4 separate regions of the Homo sapiens genome follow, and all the other regions are linked to region 4. Evidence: fine-mapped expression QTL. A gene starts in region 4. Each other region holds a variant in brackets. All regions are shown on one strand. Distances are between the middles of the regions. Region 1 has its middle 3.3 kb from the start of VILMIR. Region 2 overlaps RHOT1 (ras homolog family member T1). Region 3 overlaps SUZ12 (SUZ12 polycomb repressive complex 2 subunit). Region 4 holds the start of RHOT1 (ras homolog family member T1).

Evidence for each region. PIP is the estimated chance that this variant, and not a neighbour inherited with it, causes the effect.
Region 1: its variant is the best candidate, but not a certain one, in a credible set for the expression of RHOT1 in tibial nerve (GTEx, PIP 0.66).
Region 2: its variant is the best candidate, but not a certain one, in a credible set for the expression of RHOT1 in whole blood (INTERVAL, PIP 0.70).
Region 3: its variant is the best candidate, but not a certain one, in a credible set for the expression of RHOT1 in whole blood (TOPMed, PIP 0.58).

The regions. Positions count from the first base shown.
Region 1 is chr17:32,076,888-32,082,501 of GRCh38, forward strand. No RefSeq gene overlaps it. Among named protein-coding and RNA genes, the nearest start is that of VILMIR, 3.3 kb to the right of the region's middle. The variant C/T (reference allele first, on the strand shown) is at 3,020.
Region 2 is chr17:32,163,069-32,168,068 of GRCh38, forward strand. All of the region lies in intron 1 of RHOT1 (ras homolog family member T1), which reads left to right. Among named protein-coding and RNA genes, the nearest start is that of RHOT1, 23 kb to the left of the region's middle. The variant AC/A (reference allele first, on the strand shown) is at 2,294.
Region 3 is chr17:31,955,355-31,960,354 of GRCh38, forward strand. All of the region lies in intron 4 of SUZ12 (SUZ12 polycomb repressive complex 2 subunit), which reads left to right. Among named protein-coding and RNA genes, the nearest start is that of SUZ12, 21 kb to the left of the region's middle. The variant C/G (reference allele first, on the strand shown) is at 2,524.
Region 4 is chr17:32,140,599-32,145,598 of GRCh38, forward strand. RHOT1 (ras homolog family member T1) reads left to right here and starts at 1,904. Exons shown (of 20, transcript NM_001033566.3): 1 at 1,904-2,131. The coding sequence starts at 2,095. It overlaps LOC105371730 (a long non-coding RNA gene), which reads right to left and starts at 2,537. Exons shown (of 2, transcript NR_136413.1): 1 at 2,427-2,537; 2 at 628-2,115. RefSeq lists an enhancer at 1,235-1,404 and silencers at 1,865-2,094, 2,125-2,184.

The DNA.
Region 1 (5,614 bases), 63 kb before region 4:
AGGCTAGAGTGCAGTGGCACGATCTTGGCTCACTGCAACCTCCTCCTCCCGGGTTCAAGCGATTCTCCTGCCTCAGCCTCCCAAGTAGCTGTGATTACAAGTGTGTGCCACCACACCGGGCTAATTTTTGTATTTTTAGTAAAGATGGGGTTTCACCATGTTTGCCAGGCTGGTCTCAAACTTCTAACCTCAAGTGATCCGCCTGCCTCGGCCTCCCAAAGTGCTGGGATTACAGACGTGAGCCATCACACCTGGCTAGAATGGGTAATTTATAAAGAAAAGAGGCTTAATTGACTCACAGTTCTGCGGGCTGTACAAGCACAGTGCTGGCATCTGCTTGGCTTCTGGAAAGATCTCAGGGAGCTTTAACTCATGGCAGAAGGTGAAGCAGGAACTTCACATGGCAAAAGCAGGAGCAGGAGAGAGAGTGGGGTGGAGGGGAGGTGCCACACACTTAAACAACCAGATCTCCAGGCCAGGTGCAGTGGCTCAAGCCTGTAATCCCAACACTTTGGGAGGCCAAGGCAGGTGGATCATTTGAGGTCAGGAGTTCGAGACCACCCTGACCAACACAGTGAAACCCCATCTTTACTAAAAATACAAAAAAATTAGCTGGCCGCAGTGGCGCAGGCCTATAATCCTGGCTACTCAGGCGGCTGAGGCAGGAGAATCGCTTGAATCCAGGAGGTGGAGGTTGCAGTGAGCTGAGATTGCACCACTGCACTCCAGCCTGGGTGACAGAGCGAGAATCCATCTCAAAAAACAAACAAACAAAACAACTAATTCTCCAAAGAACTCACTCACAATTGTGTGGACAGCACCAAAGAGATGGCGCTAAGCCATTCATGAGGGATCCGCCCCCATGATCCAATCCCCTCCCACCAAGCCCCACCTCCAATATTGGGAATTACAGTTCAACATGAGATTTGGCAGGGAAACAGATCCAAACTACATCAGTTCATCTATAATATATGATTTTTTATTTATTTTTTTTTTTTTGCCCCGAGGGAGGAAGAATTTTCTGAATCCCTGTGGTTAGTAAAAGAGAGAGGCGGCCGGGTGCGGTGGCTCATGTCTGTAATCCCAGCATTTTGGGAGGCTGAGGCGGGCTGATCACGAGATCAGGAGATCAAGACCATCCTGGCTAACATAGTAAAACCCCGTCTATACTAAAAATACAAAAAAAATTAGCTGAGCGTGGTGGTGCATGCCTCTAGTCCCAGCTACTAGGGAGGCTGAGGCAGGAGAATGGCGTGAACCCAGGAGGCGGAGCTTGCAGTGAGCCGAGATCATGCCACTGCACTCCAGCCTGGGCGACAGAGCGAGACTTCGTCTTAAAAAAAAAAAGAGAGAGAGAGAGCCATGATCAGGAAGCCGTCATGATGACTCGTGGAGACACTGGCCCTGAAGTAGCTGCAACCCTCTTAATACACAGGAAGAAAGGGCTGGGATGCAGGAAGGAAGGGCTGGGAGGCAAGCACAGGCAGCCCCTCTGTGAACCCTCAGGTAGGAGCCACCAGCCATTTTACTGCTGAGTTTAGCATTTGGGGTTGTTCAAGAGTTCAGGGCTTCTGGGAGACTAGAGAATGCCTTCATCTCCAGGGCACTAAAACCTCAGTTACCTAATCTGTGAAATGGGTATGATCATAGCAATCCCACAAAACTGCTGGTAGGGTTACATGTAATTATTTCTCCTTTTTTTCTTTTTTTAAGAGATGGGTTCTCCCTATGTATGTTGCCCAGGCTGGACTTGAACTCCTAGGCTCAAGTGATCCTCCCACCTTGGCCTTCCAATGTGCTGGGATCACAGTAAATTTTTTCTTGTAGAAACAGGGTCTCCCTGCTGGGCACGGTGGTTCACACCTGTAATTCCAGCACTTTGGGAGGCTGAGGCGGGTGGATCACCTGAGGTCAGGAGTTTGAGACCAGCCTGGCTGACACGGTGAAACCTTATCTCTACTAAAAATACAAAAAATTGGCCAGGCGCGGTGGCTCACGCCTGTAATCCCAGCACTTTGGGAGGCCAAGGTGGGTGGATCACGAGGTCAGGAGATGGAGACCATCCTGGCTAACATGGTGAAACCCCATCTCTACTAAAAATACAAAAAATTAGCCAGGCGTGGTGGCGGGCGCCTGTAGTCCCAGCTACTGGGGAGGCTGAGGCAGGAGAATGGTGTGAACCCGGGAGGCAGAGCTTGCAGTGAGCCGAGATCGTGCCACTGCACTCCAGCCTGGGCAACAGAGTGAGACTCTGTCTCAAAAAAAAAAAACAAAAAACAAAAGAAAACAAAAAATTAGCTGGGTGTGGTGGTGGGCACCTGTAATCTCAGCTACTCAGGAGGAGGAAAATCGCTTGAATCCGGGAAACAGAGGTTGCAGTGAGCCGAGATCACACCATTGCACTCCAGCCTGGGTAACAAGAGCAAAACTCTGTCTCAAAAAAATAATAATAATAAAATAACAATGGATTGGTTGAGAGATCACCGTATGCCAGAAGTTGCTTTAAGCATTTTGCATGTATTAATCCATTTTACACCTCACAATATCGCTACCAAGTAGAAACGATTATCTCGATTTTGTAAAAGGTGAAACAGGAAAAAACCACTAGAGCAGAGCTGGCAGACCCTCAACCTTCTTTTCCTTCTGACTCCAAATGACAGACAGCATTCTTTCCATCTCTCACCTCCTCATGCCTCCTGTGGAAAAAATGAATGAACAGATGAGAAAAGTTGGAGCTGGAGAAAGACCGTGTTCCTCGTGTTCTGTGAGACCTGGGAAGGCTGCTAAAACCCAGGGAGCAGGAGTTCTCCTCCCTCCATCCTTATCCACAGTCTGGGTCCCATCCAGACCCTCCTCTCCAAACCGGGGGTTTGCGACAAAGCAGGTGAGGGAGGCATTTCATTCCAGAGCAGAAGAAGGGGGTTCCTCCCCCATCCCACTCCCGTTTCATTTTTAAGGGGAAAAGCAGCTCCCCATACGGTGAGGCAATGAGGCGGACCAGCAGGTTCCTGGGGATCTC[C/T]GCAGCCCCGTTGCCATAACAACTGAACTCACTCGCAGCCTCTGATAGGGGAGTCAGCTGGAACCACAGCTTGGGCAGGAAACGGATGAGGGAGTAGGAAAGAAACTTCAAGATCAACCACTGGCCCTCACACCGAGCTGCGCACACCCCAAGGCCAAGTGAGGCTGGAAACCCTTGTTGTCCTTGGGAAATGGGGGAGGGCACTGGTACCCCTGGGACCTCCCTCCTGAATCTGGGCAGGTTTAAACATTTTTTTTCCAACTTTGGAAGACAGTTGTACAACCTCGAAGGAGAGGAGGTGTCAGGATTCACAAAGCGTATGGATCACACATGGCTCTAGGGGACATTCTCTTTGCTCTGTTTTATTTTTATTGTATATTTTATTCTTTTATTTTGCGATAGGGTCTTGCTCTATTGCCCAGGCTGGAGTCCAGTGGCATGACCACACCTTACTGCAGCCTCAAATTACTGGACTGAGGTGATCCTCCTGCCTCAGCCATGCGAGTAGCTGGGACTACAGACATGCACCACCACACCTGGCTAATTTTTAAAATATATATGTTTTTGTAGAGATAGGGTCCTGCTACATTGCCCAGGCTGGTCTCAAACTCCTGGCTTCAAGTGATCCTCCTGCTTTGGCCTCCCAAAGTGTTGGGATTATAGGCATGAGCCACTGCATCCAGCATCATTTCTTTTCATTATTATTATGATTATTATTTTGAGATGGAGTCTCGCTCTGTCACCCAGGCTGTAGTGGAGTGGTGTGACCTCGGCTCACTGCAACCTCCACCTCCCAGGTTCAAGTGATTCTCCTGCCTCAGCCTCCTGAGGAGTTGCGATTACAGGTACCCTCCACAATGCCTGGCTAATTTTTTTTTCTTTTTGAGACGGAGTTTTCCTCTGTGTCCCAGGCTGGAGTGCAATGGCGCGATCTCAGCTCACTGGAACCTCTGCTTCCCAGGTTCAAGCAATTCTTCTGCCTCAGCTTCCTGAGTAGCTGGGACTACAGGCAGGCACCCACCACACCTGACTAATTTTTGTATTTTTAGTAGAGACGGGGTTTCACCATATTGGCTGGTCTCAAACTCCTGACCTTATAATCCGCCCACCTCGGCCTCCAAAGTGCTGGGATTACAGGCGTAAGCCACCGTCCCTGGCCTAACCTGGCTAATTTTTATATTTTTAGTAGAAACGGGGCTTCACCATGTTTTCAAGGCAAGTCTCGAACTCATGACCTCAAGTGATCTGCTCACCTTGGCCTCCCAAAGTGCTGGGATTACAGGCGTGAGCCACTGCACCCAGCCTAATCTTTTTTTTTTTTTTTTTTTTTTTTAATGAAGACAAGGGCTCACTGCATCACCCAGGCTGGTCTCGAGCTCTTGGCCTCAAGCGATCCTCCCATCTCAGCCTCCTGAGTAGCTTGGATTACAGGCACAAGCCATCATGACTGGCTTCCTCTTTTTTTTTTTTTTTAATGAATATGGTAAAGTGCACAAATCATAAATTTCAGCGTGGTGAATTTCTACACATGTATACCTGTGTATCCACCATGCAGACCAGAAGAACATATTTGTCCCTCCAGGAAATTCCCAAATGCTCTTTCTCAGTCAATATCCTCCAATTTGACATTTTCATCATAGATTAGTTTTGCCTACCCCTGAACTTTGTGTAAGTGGAAATACATGGTTTGGCATCTTGCTTTTACGCAACATTGTATCTGTGAGAATCTATTGTCATGTCTGTTTTCCTGTTCTTTTTCTTTGTTGTATAATATTCCATTGTGGAGATGTATCACAATGTATTTATCTTACTGCTGATAGATATTTGAGTTGTTTGCAGTGAATGGTTATTGTAGATAAAGCAGCTATGAACATCCTTGTACATGTCTTTTGATGAACATAAGTTTACCTCTTGTGGGGATGTGGACAGGGTCTCACTCAGTAACTCAGGCTGGATCGCAGGAACCTGGCTCACTGTAGCCTCAACCTCCCAGGCTCAAGTGATCCTCCCACCTCAGCCTCCCGAATAGCTGGGACCACAGGTATACACTATCACACCCAGCTAATTTTTTTGTAATTTTTGTAGAGACAGGGTCTCGCTTTGTTGTCCAGGCTGCTCTTGAACCCCTGGTTCAAACTATCCTCCTGCCTCGGCCTCCCAACATGCTGGGGTTACAGACATGAGCCACTGTGCCCAGCATCTTGGTTTATTGAATGCTGGCGACCTGCCAAGAACTTTACATCAGTTATATCCTTACATAGTCACAACATTATTTATTTAATTCACTCATTCAACGCATATTTGAAAATCTAGTAGGTGCCAGGTATTGTGGGACACACCGAGAATAAGAGTCAAGGTTTATAAATTTTGGCCAGGCGCGGTGGCTCACACCTGTAATCCCAGCACTTTGGGAGGCCGAGACGAACAGATCACTTGAGGCCGAAACAAACGGATGATGGAGGCCAGGGCAGAAGCCAGGAGGCTGTGGCCAAGGCAACCTCAGTAAATCCAGGCAAGTGATGAAGGAGTTGGGAAGCACAAACGTGAATTCATGTTCTCTCTCTCTTTTTTTTTTTTTAGAGACAGGGTCTTGCT
Region 2 (5,000 bases), 22 kb after region 4:
ATTATTTATGATATTCAAAGGCCAGTAGAATGATTTCATTTTGGTGTGGTAGATAATTGAGAGTCAAAGAAAGCGTTTGATCAGGTGAGTCAGAAAATGAAAAGAGCATGTAAGAAAAATGGACCAGCATTTATATTGTTGGTAGATTAATGAGGAGAGAGACTGGAGAAAGGGATAGGAAATTTGGGACTGGGAGATTTTTCAATAAAAGTACCATAATTAGGGAAATAGGGGAACAGTGAGGGAAGGAATGAATGTTAAAAATTTCAAAGGAAAATTTGACAGATCTTGACTGCTAAATGCAGAAGAATGATGAATCGGAGATGGTACATTTTTAAAATTTTTCTTTTTATCCAGATATGTAAAAAGAATGTTAACCAAGGCTGGGTGTGGTGGCTCACGCCTGGTAATCCCAGCATTTTGGGAGGCCAAGGTGGGCAGATCACAAGGTCAAGAGTTCGAGACCAGCCTGGCCAATATGGTAAAATCCCGTCTCTACTAAAAATACAAAAATTAGCCAGCGTGATGGTGCGCACCTGTAATCCCAGCTACTTTGGAGGCTGAGGCAGGAGAATCACTATAATCTGGGAGGCAGAGGTTGCAGTGAGCTGAGATCGTGCCACTGCACTCCAGCTTGGGTGACAGAGCAAGACTCCATCTCAAAAAAAAAGAAAGGGAAAAAAAAAACAAAGAATGTTAACTATATTGGTGATAACTATCTAAGTCTGTTACAATGTAATGTAAAAGTAGAGAGGACCTAGTGGCCATGATCAGTGGTATCCCCAGGATGAAGAATAGTGCCTGGTGGCCAGGCGTGGTGGCTCACCCCTGTAATCCCAGCACTTTGGGAGGCCGAGGCAGGTGGATCACGAGGTCAAGAGATCGAGACCATCCTGGCCAACATGGTGAAACCCTGTCTCTAATAAAAATACAAAAATTAGCCAGACGTGGTGGTGTGCACCTGTAGTCCCAGCTACTAGGGAGGCTGAGGCAGGAGAATTGCTTGAATCCAGGAGGCGGAGGTTGCAGTGAACCAAGATCGCGCCACTGCGCGAAAAGAATAGTGCCTGGCTTATAGAATTGCTTAAAAAATATTTATCAAAGGATGAAAGAATGCATTTAACCTGTCAACTTTTGGGTAAATTTTAGTTGTCATCTTTAACATCCCAATTTTTTTCTTTTTTTAGACGGAGTGTCGCTCCGTCGCCAGGCTGGAGTGCAGTGGCGCCGTCTTGGCTCACTGCAGCCTCTGCCTCCCGGGTTCAAGCGATTCTTCTGCCTCAGCCTTCCAAGCAGCTGGGACTACAGGCGTGTGCCACCATGCTCAGCTAATTTTTGTATTTTTAGTAGAGACGGGGTTTCACCATGTTGACCAGGATGGTCTTGATCTCTTGACCTCATGATCCGCCCACCTCGGCCTCCCAAAGTGCTAGAATTACAGGCGTGAGCCACCGTGCCCAGACTAACATCCCAATTTTTAATACCAAAAATTACCTTAAAAATAATACTTACTGAGGCTGAATGTGGTGGCTTACACCTGTAGTCCCAGCACTTTGGGAGGCTGAGGCAGATGGATGTCGAGCCCAGGAATTCAAGACCAGCCTGGGCAACATAGTGAAACCCTGTCTCTACTAAAAATACAAAAAATTAGCCAGGTATATAGTAGTGCACACCTGTAGTCCCAGCTACCCAGGAGGCTGAGGTGGGAGGATCGTTGATCCTGGAAGGTCAAAACTTCAGTGGTCTGTGATGGCACCACTGCACTTCAGCCTGGGTGACAGAGTGATACCCTGTCTCAAAAATAAATAAGCTGGGTGTGGTGGCTCACACCTATAATCCCAGCACTTAGGGAGGCCAAGGCAGGTGGATCACTTCAGGCCAGGAGTTCAAGACCAGCCTGGCCAACATGGTGAAACTCCCTCTCTACTAACAACAACAACAGCAAAACAAAAAACAAAAAAACAAAACAAAACAAAAAAAACAGGGCCGGGCGTGGGCGTGGTGGCTTACGCCTGTAATCCCAGCACTTTGGGAGGCCAAGGCAGGCGGATCACAAGGTCAGATCGAGACCATCCTGGCTAACACGGTGAAACCCCATCTCTACTAAAAATACAAAAAATTAGCTGGGCACGGTGGCAGGTGCCTGTAGTCCCAGCTACTTGGGAGGCTGAGGCAGGAGAATGGCGTAAACCCAAGAGGCAGAGCTTGCAATAAGCCGAAATCGCGCCACTGCACTCCAGCCTGGGCGACAGAGCAAGACTCCGTCTCAAAAAAAAAAAAAAAAAAAAAAAAA[AC/A]AATACAAAAATTAGCCAGGCATGGTGGCACATGCCTGTAATCCCAGCTACTCAAGAGACTGAGGCACAAGAATGGCTTGAACCTGGGAGGTGGAAGTTGCAGTGAACCAAGATCGTGCCACTGCACTCCAGCCTGAGTGATCGAGAGAGACCCTGTCTCAAAAAAAAAAAAAGTTACTGATCTTTTCTAGTTAAAAAATTTTTGTGTTTATTTTCCAAGATAACCACTTTAGTATAATATATTCATCCAGTGGTTTTTTCTATGCACATACATATTTATCTTTAAAATGGGATCATATTGCACATGTTGACTTATACCTGCATAAATATCATTTTTAGAAGTAAAATGGAACTTGAACCTCCAAATAATGACAAACCATAAAATAATAGGATAATAGAGGAATCTGTTAGTCTATACTCATATATAAATAAGTAAACAGGCATACCTCAGAGAAACTGTGAGTTTGGTTCTACACTACCACAGTAAAGTGGCTCACAAATTTTTTTGTTTTCCCAGTGCATATAAAAGTTATGTTTATAGGCTAGGTGTGGTGGTGCATGCCTGTAATCCCAGCATTTTGGGATGCCAAGATGGGCGGATCTCCTGAGACCAGGAGTTTGAGACCTGCATGGCCAACAAGGCGAAACCCCATCTCTACTAAAAATACAAAAAAATGTAGCCAGGCATGGTGGCACATGCTTGGAATCTCAGCCACTCGAGTGGCTGAGACATGAAAATCGCTTGAACCTGGGTGGCAGAGGTTGCAGTGAGCCAAGATTGTGCCACTGCACTCCAGCTTGGGTGACACAGCGAGACTCTATCTCAAAAAAAAAAAAAAAAAGTTATGTTCATACTATACTGTAGTCTGTTAAGTGTGTAATGTAATATCTAAAAAATGTACATACCTTAATTTAAAAATACTTTATTGTCAAAAAATGCTAATGATCATCTGAGCCTTCAGTGAGTTGTAACCTTTTTGCTGGTGGAGAGTCTTGCCTCAGGGTTGATGGCTGCTGACTGATTAGGGTGGTGATTCCTGAAGGCTGGGGTGGCTGTGGCAATTTCTTAAAATAAGACAACTATGACATTTGCTGCATCGATTGACTCTTCCTTTCACTAAAGATTTCTCTGTAGCATGTGATGCCATTTAATAGCATTTTACCCACAGTGGAACTTCTTTCAGAATTGGAGTCAATCCTCTCAAACCCTACTGCTGCTTTATCAACTAAGTTTATGTAATATTCCAGGTCCTTTGTTGTCATTTCAATATTGCTCACAGCATCTTCACCAGTAGATTCTGTCTCAAGAAACCACATTCTTTGCTCATCCATAATAAACTCTTCATCTGTTCAAGTTTTATTATGAGATTGCAGCAATTTAGTCACATTTTTAGGCTTCACTTCTAATTCTAGCTCTTTTCTTGCTATTTCCACCATATCTGCAATTCCTTCATTGAGGCTTGAATCCCTCAAAGTCATGTGAGGGTTGGAACCAACTTCTTCCAAACTCCTGATAATGTTACTTTGATCTCCTGTGAATCACAAATGTTCTTGATGGCATCTAGAATGGTGAATTATTTCCAGAAGGTTTTTAGTTTACTTTGCCCACATCCATCAGAGGAATCACTATCTATGGCAGCTATATATAGGCTTACACAATGTAAATAGTAAGCCTAAATAATAAGGCTTGAAAGTTATAATTACTCCTTGAACCATGGACTGCAGACTGGATGTCATGTTAGCAGGCACGAAAATAATCTCCTTGTACGTCTCCATCTGAGCTCTTGGGTGACCAGGTGTATTGTCAGTGAGCAGTAATATTTTGAAAGGAATCTTTTTTTTTTTTGAGGAGTAGGTCTCAACAGTAGCCTTAAAATATTCAATAAACCATTCTGTAAACAAATGTGCTGTCATCCAGGCTTTGTTATTCCATTTATAGAGCACAGGCAGAATAGATTGAGCATAATTTTTTTTTTTTTTTTGAGACGGAGTCTCGCTCTGTCGCCCAGGCTAGAGTGCAGTAGTGCAATCTTGGCTCACTGCAAGCTCCGCCTCCCGGGTTCACACCATTCTCCTGCCTCAGCCTCCCGAGTAGCTGGGACTACAGGCACCCACCACAATGCCCGGTTAATTTTTGTATTTTTAGTGGAGCCTCCCAAGTAGCCGGGATTACAGGCGTGAGCCACCATGCCCGGCCAGATTGAGCATAATTTTTAAGGGCCCTAGGATTTTCAGACTGGCAAATGACCACTGGCTTCCACTTAAAGGCAGCAACCTGCATTAGCCCCTAACAAGAGTCAGCCTATCCTTTTAAGCATTGAAACCAGGCATTGATATCTGCTCTCTAGCTATCGATGGCATCTTCTTCTGATACAAGGCTGTTTCATCTACATCGAAAATCTTGGTTGGGTCGTATAATACCAGCAACTTGGGAGACCAAGACAGGAGGATTGCTTGAGGCCAGGAGTTTAAGATCATCTTGGGCAACATGGTGAGACCCTGTCCGTACAAAGAATTAAAAAATTCACTGGATGTGGTGGCGTGGCCTGTGATACTAGCTACTCAGGAGGCTAAGGCAGGAGGATTGCTTGAGCCCAGGAGTTTGAGGCTACAGTGAGCTATGATCATCCCACTATGCTCTAGCCTAGGTGACAGAGACCCCCATCTCTAAGGAAAAAAAGAAAAGGAAACATTTGTTTACAGAAT
Region 3 (5,000 bases), 190 kb before region 4:
CACTTTACCCTTGACCTCCTGGCCTCAAATGATCCTCCTGCCTCAGCCTACCGAATAGCCTAGGACCACAGGCGCAAGATACCATGCCTGGATGATTTTGTAAAATTTTGTAGCCGGGGCACGGTGACTCATGCCTGTAGTCCCAGCACTTTTGGAGGCCGAGGCGGGCGGATCACGAGGTCAGGAGATTGAGAACAGCCTGACCAACATGGTAAAAACCCCATCTCTACTAAAAATATAAAAATTAGCTGGGCAGAGTGTCGTGCACCTGTAATCCCAGCTATTCAGGAGGCTGAGGCAGGAGAATCGCTTAAACCTGGGAGATGGAGGTTGCAGGGAGGAGAGATCGCGCCATTGCACTCCAGCATGGGCGACAGAGTGAGACTACATCTCAAAAAAACTTACAGTAGAGATCCATTGTCTTGTCATGTTGCCCAAGATGGTCTCAAACTTCTGGCCTCTAACAGTCCTCCTGTCTCAGCCTCTCAAAGCATTGAGATTACAAGTGTGAACCATTACACCCAGCCTGTTGTTTTTAAAGTTGTATATTATTATTATTATTATTTTTTGTTTTTGAGATGGAGTCTCGCTCTGTCGCCCAGGCTGGAGTGCAGTGGTGCGATCTCGGCCCACTGCAAGCTCTGCCTTCCCGGGTTCACGCCATTCTTCTGCCTCAGCCTCCTGAGTAGCTAGGACTATAGGCGCCTGCCACCACGCCCGGCTAATTTTTTGTATTTTTTAGTAGAGATGGGGTTTCACCGTGTTAGCCAGGATGTTCTCAATCTCCTGACCCCGTGATCTGTCCGCCTCGGCCTCCCAAAGTGCTGGGATTACAGGCGTGAGCCACCACGCCCAGCCAGTATTACTATTTTTTTGAGAGGGAGTCTCACTCTGTCGCCAGCAGTCTCGACTCACTGCAACCTCCGCCTCCTGGGTTCAAGCAATTTTCTTGCCTCAGCCTCTGGAGTAGCTGGGACTACAGGCGTGTGCCACCATGCCTGGCTAATGTTTTGTGTTTTAGTAGAGATGGGGTTTCACCGTGTTGGCCAGGATGGTCTTGATCTGACCTCGTGATCGGCCCACCTCAACCTCCCAAACTGCTGGGATTACAGGCATAAGCCGCCGCACCCAGTCAGTTTTTAAATATATATAGTTATTGTTTCTGCATTGTTCTGTTTCTTCTAACATTAGACCAGTAGTACATATGATGGTTAGGATTGTAATCTGAGTTCCAGGAGCAGGATGCTGCTCTTCGGTCACTTCAGAACCTCGAGATATCACCGAAAACCCTCCCTACCCACCTCTGCTATTATTGCACTTCTCGCCTAGTATTGTGGTATGTAAAAAAGTCATTAAATTCTTAAATTATTTATTTTATTTTCTCTCTATATATACGTGTGTGTGTGTATATATATGTATATATGTATATATATATATTTTTTGGTTTTTTGAGACAGTCTCATTCTATGGCTCAGCAATGTCGCCATCTAGGATCACTGCAACCTCTGCCTCCCAGGTTCAGGGGATTCTCATGCCTCAGCCTCCCAGGTAGCTGGGATTATAGGCATGTGCCACCACGCCCAGCTAATGTTTGTATTTTTAGTAGAGACTAGTTTTCACTGTGTTAGCCAATCTGGTCTTGAATTCCTGACCTCAAGTGATCCACCCACCTCGGCCTCCCAAAGTGCTGGATTACAGGCCTGTGCCAGCGTGCCTGGCCTTATTTTATTACTATTATTATTTTTGAGATAGAGTCTTGCTCCATTGCCCGGGCTGGAGTGCAGTGGCACGATCACTGGCTCACTGCAGTCTCAACCTCCTGGGATGAAGAGATCCTCTCTCCTCAGCCTCTTGATTAGCTGGGACTACCTGGCTACATTTTTTGTTTTTTTTTTTTCTCTTCCAGATGGAGTCTTGCTTTGTTGCCCAGGCTGTAGTGCAGTGGTGTGATCTCTGCTCACTACAACCTCCACCTCCTGAGTTCATGTAATTCTCCTGTCTCAGCTTCCTGAGTAGCTGGGATTACAGACATGCACCACCATACCCGGATAATTTTTGTATTCTTTTTTTTTTTGGTACGGAGTTTCTTTCTTCTTGCCCAGGCTGGAGTACAGTGGCGTGATCTTGGCTCACTGCAACTTCCACCTCCCAGGCTCAAGCGATTCTTCTGCCTCAGCCTCCCGAGTAGCCGGGATTACAGGTGCCTGCCACCACGCCTAGCTAATTTTTTTGCATTTTTAGAGACAGGGTTTCAACAGGTAGAGCAGACTGGTCTCGAATTCCTGACTTCAGGTGATCTGCTCGCCTCAGCCTCCCAAAGTGCTGGGATTGTAGCCGTAAGCCACTGCCCCCAGCCAGTTTTTGTATTTTTAGCAGAGATGGAGTTTCACCATGTTGGCCAGGCTGGCCTCGAATTCTTGACCTCAAGTTATCCACCAGCCTCAGCCTCCCAAAGTGCTGGATTACAGGTGTGAGCCACTGCACCTGGCCCTGGATTACAGGTGTGAGCCACTGCACCTGGCC[C/G]TGGCTCACCTTTTGTCCTTTTTTTTTTTTTTTTTTTTTTTTTGAGACAGAGTCTTGCTCTGTCGCCCAGGCTGGAGTTCAGTGGCGCAATCTCCGCTCACTGCAAGTTCTGCCTCCCGGGTTCATGCCATTCTCCTGCCTCAGCCTCCCGAGTAGCTGGGACTACAGGCGCCTGCCATCACGCCCGGCTAATTTTTTTGTATTTTTAGTAGAGATGGGGTTTCACCGTGTTAGCCAGGATGTCTCAATCTCCTGACCTCATGATCCGCCCACCTCAGCCTCCCAAAGTGCCGGGATTGCAGGCGTGAGCCACCGCGCCCAGCCCCTTTTGTACTTTTTGTAGAGATGAGGTTTCACCGTTTTGCCCAGTGTGACCTCGAACTACTGAGTTCAAGTGATCTGCCCACTTTGTCCTCCTAAAGTGTTAGGATTACAGGCGTGAGCCACTGCATCCGACCTATTAAATTATTTTTAAGAGAACTATTGTATTAATGATTTTTCCCTACTTTTCTATTTTGTACATTTAGCTGCAGTTTAAAATCTTTAGGCTGGCCCAGGCATGGTGACTCACGCCTGTATCCCAGCACTTTGGGAGGTCAAGGCAGGTGGTTCACTTGAGGTGAAGAGTTCAAGAGCAGCTTGACCAACATGGTAAAAACCCCATCTCTACTAAAAATCCAAAAAATTAGGCCAGGTGCGGTGGCTCACGCCTGTAATCCCAGCACTTTGGGAGGTCAAGGCAGGCGGATCATGAGGTCAAGAGATTGAGACTATCCTGGCCAACATGGTGAAACCCCATCTCTAGTAAAAATACAAAAATTAGCTGGGCGTGGTGGCATGTGCCTGTATTTCTAGCTACTCGGGAGGCTGAGGCAGGAGAATTGCTTAAACCTGGGAGGCAGAGGTTGCAGTGAGCCGAGATTACACCGCTGCACTCCATCCTGGCTACAGAGTGAAACTCTGTCTCAAAAATAAATAAATAAATAAAACATTAGCTGGGCATGGTGGCGTGCACCTGTAATTTCATCTACTCGGGAGGCTGAGGCAGGAGAATTGCTTGAACCCAGGAGGTGGAGGTTGCAGTGAGCAGATATCGCACCACTGCACTCCAGCCTGGGTGACAGAGGGAGACTCCGTCTCAAAATAAATAAATAAATAAAATCTGTAGACTACCTCTTAGGTTGGTTATGTGTCTTTCCCACCATTAATAAGATCTGATGTTTTCCCTTTCTTTTTTTTAATACACTTTGCCTTGACTATAAGCTTTGAAGTTGTTTTCAAATTGTCATCTTTTCAGTCTTGAGTTTTTGTTCTTTTTTCAGAACCTGGCTATACATTTCTTTTTGCATACTTACTCTTGAAGGTGCCTCATCAGTTGCCACTTAAGCATATCTGATTCTTAAAAATTTGAATATTCAAGAACAAATTGTAAAAATATTCCTTGTATAATTTTTGGTTTTGTAGTAATTCCTTTGTTTGCTTCACAGTACTTCTGCAGAGTGATCCATTTGTAATTAATAGACACACACACATCATCCACCATTGAGCTTTATCTTCTCATTAGAAAGTGCGTCTAACCCCTATATTTTGAGATCCTGGATTTCAGAATATTGGACTTGATGTAGACACGAGTTTCTCAGCTTTACATATCATAGGATGAAATGTATATAACAAAAGTTGAATAGCTAACATCTAACTATAGAAACCAAGTAGATTATCAGACTTGTCCTGTTTTGAGGTAATACTGCCATGCCCTTAAAATGAAGCCTTATTCCTGCTGCTAGCAGATTCATGTATATAAATTAGAGGCACTAATCTTGGTCTCCTCTTGTCATAAAAATTACTTCCTCTGTGGGATCTGGCTGTTCTTAAAATGGGAGGCTCTTCCTTGAATTAGATTTCAAAGTGTTAGTCTCTTATGAATTAGCTTAGCATCATTTTCTGTAGACTGTATCAGAACTGTCAGATGTTTGTGCTTGGAATGCTGAAATTTGCATCTCAAAATTTCAAATTCTTTACCTGATTTCTTGTTATCATGTGTCTTACTTCCTGAGAAGATGCAGGGAGCACATGACATAGATGAACTAAGTTTCTTATATCTTATTCTGGTCATGTAAACTAGATTTTTTTGTGGCCTAAAACCAAATAGTCCTGACCAACCTTACGTGTTTCTTTTCCTCCCGTTCATCTGGTCCAGCCTAACCAATTAAGATGTGGACAAAGTAGCTGCAAGAGAGGGCAGAGGGAAGGGAGAGAAAACTTTGCCCTTTTCCTTGGAACAAACCACCTATGGAAGGGATCATTGGTACACTTTATTCTAGTACATATCAGAGTGTTTACTTTTTTTTTTTGAGACGGGGTCTCGCTCTGTTGCCCAGGTTGGAGTGCAGTGATGCAATCTCGGCTCACTGCAACCTCCGCCTCCCAGGTTTAAGCGATTCTCCTGCCTCAGCCTCCTGAGTAGCTGGGATTACAGG
Region 4 (5,000 bases):
TTCCCTGAAAGATCAGGTAACCAAGCCTCCTGAATTTCACATTTCCACTCATTGAGGTGTGGGGGGAGGAGGGAGATGAAAGCACCTTATTTACATCTACCCAGGAACGCGACTTCATTATCTCTCAGTGAACAAGGAGTATGTCTTTCCCATCTCCCTCTTTTTCCTAACACGGACAGGGATAGAGTTGTTTTTGAAAGGGCTTTCTCCCCTGTGCTCCTTATGGACATCAAATAACTAAGATGGTGAAATTCTGCAGTAAACACAACAACATATTTGCCTCAAAACCTGTGGATTAGGCTGGGCGCGGTGGCTCACGCCTGTAATCCCAGCACTTTGGGAGGCCAAGGCAGGCGGATCACGACGTCAGGAGATCGAGACCATCCTGGCTAACACGGTGAAACCCCGTCTCCACTAAAAATACAAAAAAAAAAAAAAAAAAATTAGCCGGGCGTGGTGGCGGACGCCTGTAGTCCCAGCTACTCGGGAGGCTGAGGCAGGAGAATGGCGTGAACCCAGGAGGCGGAGCTTGCAGTGAGCCGAGATTGCGCCACTGCACTCCAGCCTGGGCGACAGAGCGAGACTCCGTCTCAAAACAAAACCAAAACAAAACAAAAAATCTGTGGATTACAACTTTTTAGTGACTTTTTAATATAATAATGATAGCTGAGATCAGTAGAGCACACGCTCTGAGTCTGGCACTGTACCAAATGCTTGACAAGTATTATAGTATTTATTACTCACAACCATCTCAAGAGGAAGGTATTATCATCATTATTTCCATGCTACAGAAGAAGGAACAGTGGCTGAGGGAAGTAAAAATAAAAGCACTTAGTCGAGATCACAGAGCTATTATGTGGAGCCTAGATTCAAACCCAGGAAATTTGCCAGCAACTCTTAACTGCTGCAAGAGACCACATGACTTCTCCTAGGAGAAAGGGAAGTTGGTATTACGCACATTTCATTCCCTTTAAGTGTTTATTGTGTAATATTTAAGATAGAAAAAATGTACATTATGCACAGATAGTGCTTCCTCATTAATTTATGTATTTTATATTTCCCACTGTGTGCCAAGTATTAGGGATGTGATATATATTCGCACGCGTATGTATATATATATATTTGCCATTGTGTACCAAACATTAAGCATGTAACAACAAATTCCTCCAGATGGAGAGGGTCACGAGAAAATTAAGGCAATGTTAGAAAAATCATCTAGAGTTTATTATCGAGTGCCACCTCCGTGTCTAGCATTACGCTGGGTAAGCCTGAGTAAAGAAGAGTGTCCGAAAACCCTGCCATAAAATAAACTACATAGACAGAAAAAAAGTCACTTAGTTTGGTTATAAAGAAAGGAGTCTTGTTCACACAGCGTAAAAACGAATCTTATAATCGTATTTTATAAGCATCAGAGGCAAAAGCAACTAGGGTGACGGGCTTTGGGGAGTGGAAAGCGCCGGATCCTGGGAGCCAGTCGCCCTACTCGATCAAGCATTTTCTGACGGCCCTATCCAATAACGTGGGGACGCAGCTGAAAACCATGCAAGCTGATCGCTGCCCTCCCGGAGTTTATGGTCTGGTGAGAAGATCCCTGCTCTGAGTCACTGCCAAGCTCTAGCTATGTGACTTTGAACAGGGAATTTCTGTCCCTATCTATAAAATAAACGGGGTTAAACCAGGGAATCCGCCATTCAAATTCCTGGCCCAAGTGTCTCCGGGGTCGCGGTGCCCAAAGGAGGGTGGGCGAGGCTCCCTGGGCCTGCGCTGCGGCGGCCTGACAGCGGGAGCGCTGTTCCGGCGCAGAGCGCGTTCGCGTTCCGAAAGCGCGTGTCCCTCGCCGCGTGCCGTCGTCCCCGCCGCCGCCGCCGCCGCCGCCGCCGCCGCCGCCGCCGCCGCCGCCGCCACAGCCCGCTGGGCCGGAGGAGGCGGAGCTGGCGCTGTCCCGGCTCTCTTGCGGGGAAGCAACTGAGGGGGCGGCGCGGCGGGCCCCGGCGGCCGAAGAGGCTGGCAGGTGGCGCCGTGGGGTGGGTGCTCCTGGTGAGAGGAGTCCACTCCGTGCGTGCGGGCGGAGGCCGGCCCCCGAGAGCCGCCGACATGAAGAAAGACGTGCGGATCCTGCTGGTGGGAGAACGTGAGTCCGCACCCTCTGGCCGGCCCCTGAGTCCCTGCCCTCCCTGCCCCTGCAGCCCCTGTCGCCCCTGTCGCCCCTGCAGCCCCAACCTTTGCAGCCCCGGCCCTTCTCGCGCCTCACAGCTCCGCTCGCCTTTCTCCGCGTTCCTAGGCCTTCCAGCCCCTTCACTCTTCTCTTTTGGCTGGCCGCCGGCGGCCCTCACCCTGTCACCTCACCTGGGCCCTCCAGAGATCTCCTTTCCCTGTTCCCCAGCCGTCCTCCCAAGCCATGTCCCTATTAGCCCTAACCGCCCGACCTCATCCCTCCGAAGCTTCTCTCCTCCTTTTCCTCTTCGAACCCTGTCCTTCTGGGCCTCACAGTTTCCCAGGCCGCCTCCTTTCAGACCTTCTTGTCTTCTGGAGATTCCCTTATCACTGCCAGGCAGGTGCTGGAATAAGCAGACTGACCAATAGGGATTGCGTGAACCGGCTCCCGGGGAAGCTGGGGGAGGGGTGCAGAACTATTCGACTTGTGGGCAAGGTCAGGTTTCTGCATTTTTTTGGCACTCGCAGTCTTCACTCTCTCTATGTATTGACATTAAGATATGAGTAGTGGAAAGGGCCGGATCCTTTTTAGCAGTACTTGTACTTTGCATTGGACTAACTCCTCGTACTCGAGATATTTCATCAAAAATTTTTACTCAACTTCGAGTTATGCAAGCGCTCAATGAATTAGAATTATCTGGGGAGGGTCCAATTGTTGTTACCCTAAAGCGTAATCTTTGCCCTCTTTTTAAGCATTATTTATTCCATAGTTACTTCGTAGTTAACTTATTAATAACCACAGGCACACAGACATTTGATATCTCCCCCCACCCAGAAATTTCATACATTTCACCTTTTGAAAATATAATAAAGGAGAGTTCCCTCTGTTCACTGACATGAGGACGCAACAGCGGGGACTTCTTGATTTCACTCTGCAAGTTATGTAACTCAGTTGCTAGGACTAAAATAAGAAAGTGGGCCAGGGATAACTGGATTGTTTGTTTTAAAGAGTTAATACATTCGTTAATAGTCTGCCATTGCTGTTTCGAAGCATTCTGTTTTAAACCATTATTTCATTCTTGGTAACCCCTCAGGGTCACCGTGATGGAATCCCAAGGAAGAAAGTTAACACGTTTTTACCCTCTTCTGTAGTGTTCTTTGAGTTCATTGAAATTTCATCCACCTGCTGTTTGGAGAAATCTTCCTTTAGAATTAGAATTTAGGAGTAAGCTTAGCCAGCCATAGTTTACTTTTTGATTTGCAGTTGTAAATTTTTATTTTTATTTATAACTATATCTTAATCTGTATTTTTCATGGACTTCCTTGACAAGGTTCAGGAAGGTGTTATTTAACATATAATTCATGCTTATGCTTTTGGAGCAAGGTAGGGAAAGTGAGTAGACGACTTGCTTAAAAAACTGATCCTTAAATATATGATGAAATAGTTTGTTGTTGTTGTTGTTTTGAGACAGAGTCTCGCTCTGTCACCGAGGCTGGAGTGCAGTGCCTGGGATTACAGGCACTGTGGCTCATGCCTGTAATCCCAGCACTTTGGGAGGCCAAGGCAGGCAGATCACTTGAGGTCAGGAGTTCGAGACGAGCCTGGCCAACATGGTGAAACCCCGTCTCTACTAAAAATACGAAAATTAGCCGGGTGTGGTGGCACACACCTGTAGTCCCAGCTACTCTGGAGGCTGAAGCAGGAGAATCACTTGAACCCTGGAGGAGGAGGTTGCAGTGAGCTGAGACATGCCAGCCTGGGCAGCAGAGCAAGACTCTGTCTGAAAAAAAACCTTTAATAATGCTCCCACACAGCTGGGTGAGGTGGCTTATACCTGTATTCCAAGCACTCTGGGAGGCTGAGGCAGGAGGATCACTTGAGGCCAAGGAGTTTGAGACCAACCTGGGCAATGTAGTGAGATCCTGTCTCTACAAAAAATTTAAATATTAATGGCTGGGCACAGTGGCTCACTCCTGTAATCCCAGCACTTTGGGAGGCTGAGGCAGGAGGATTGCTTGAACGCAGGAGTTTGAGACCAGCCTGGGCAACATAGTGAGACCCCGCCTCAAAAAAAAAAAACCACAACACTATTAGCTAGGCATGGTGGTGTGCACCTGTAGTCCTAGCTACTGGGGAGGCTGAGATGAGAGAATTGCTTGAACCCAGAAAATCGAGGTTGCAGTGAGCCATGATCACACCACTGCACTTCAGCCCAGGTGACAGAGCAAGACTGTCTCTTAAAGAAAAAATTAATTTTTAATGGCTGGGCACAGTAGCTCATGCCTGTAACCCCAACACTTTGGGAGGCCAAAGTGGGCAGATCACCTGAGGTCAGGAGTTTGAGACCAGGAAACTGACCAACATGACGAAACCCAGTCTCTACTAACAATACAATAATTAGTCAGCTGTGGCAGCACGCACCTGTAATCCCAGCTACTCAGGAGGCTAAGGCAGGAGAATGGCTTTCACCCAGGAGATGGAGGTCGCAGTGAGCTGAGATCACACCACTGCATTCCAACCTGGGGGACAGAGTGAGACTCTGTCTCAAAAAATATATATATATATTGATAATAGTAAACAGGATAGTTTTCATTTTAATGGAGTCTTCTTTTTAAATTAAATTGAGATATATTTGTTTTCTACTAGTTAAGTTCCTTAAGAAAATGGAACTGTTATCTTCTTTTAAAATGAATCTGGCAGATCTTTAACTGGTTTGTCTAACTCTGATTATCATGGCAACCTCTGCCAAACTACTTCAAAATTCCACTGGCTTTGGCCTTGACTTTTGCAATATCTCCCTTAACCAGTCTTTCTGCTCCTGCTTTCCTCCATTTTCCGTGGAGCA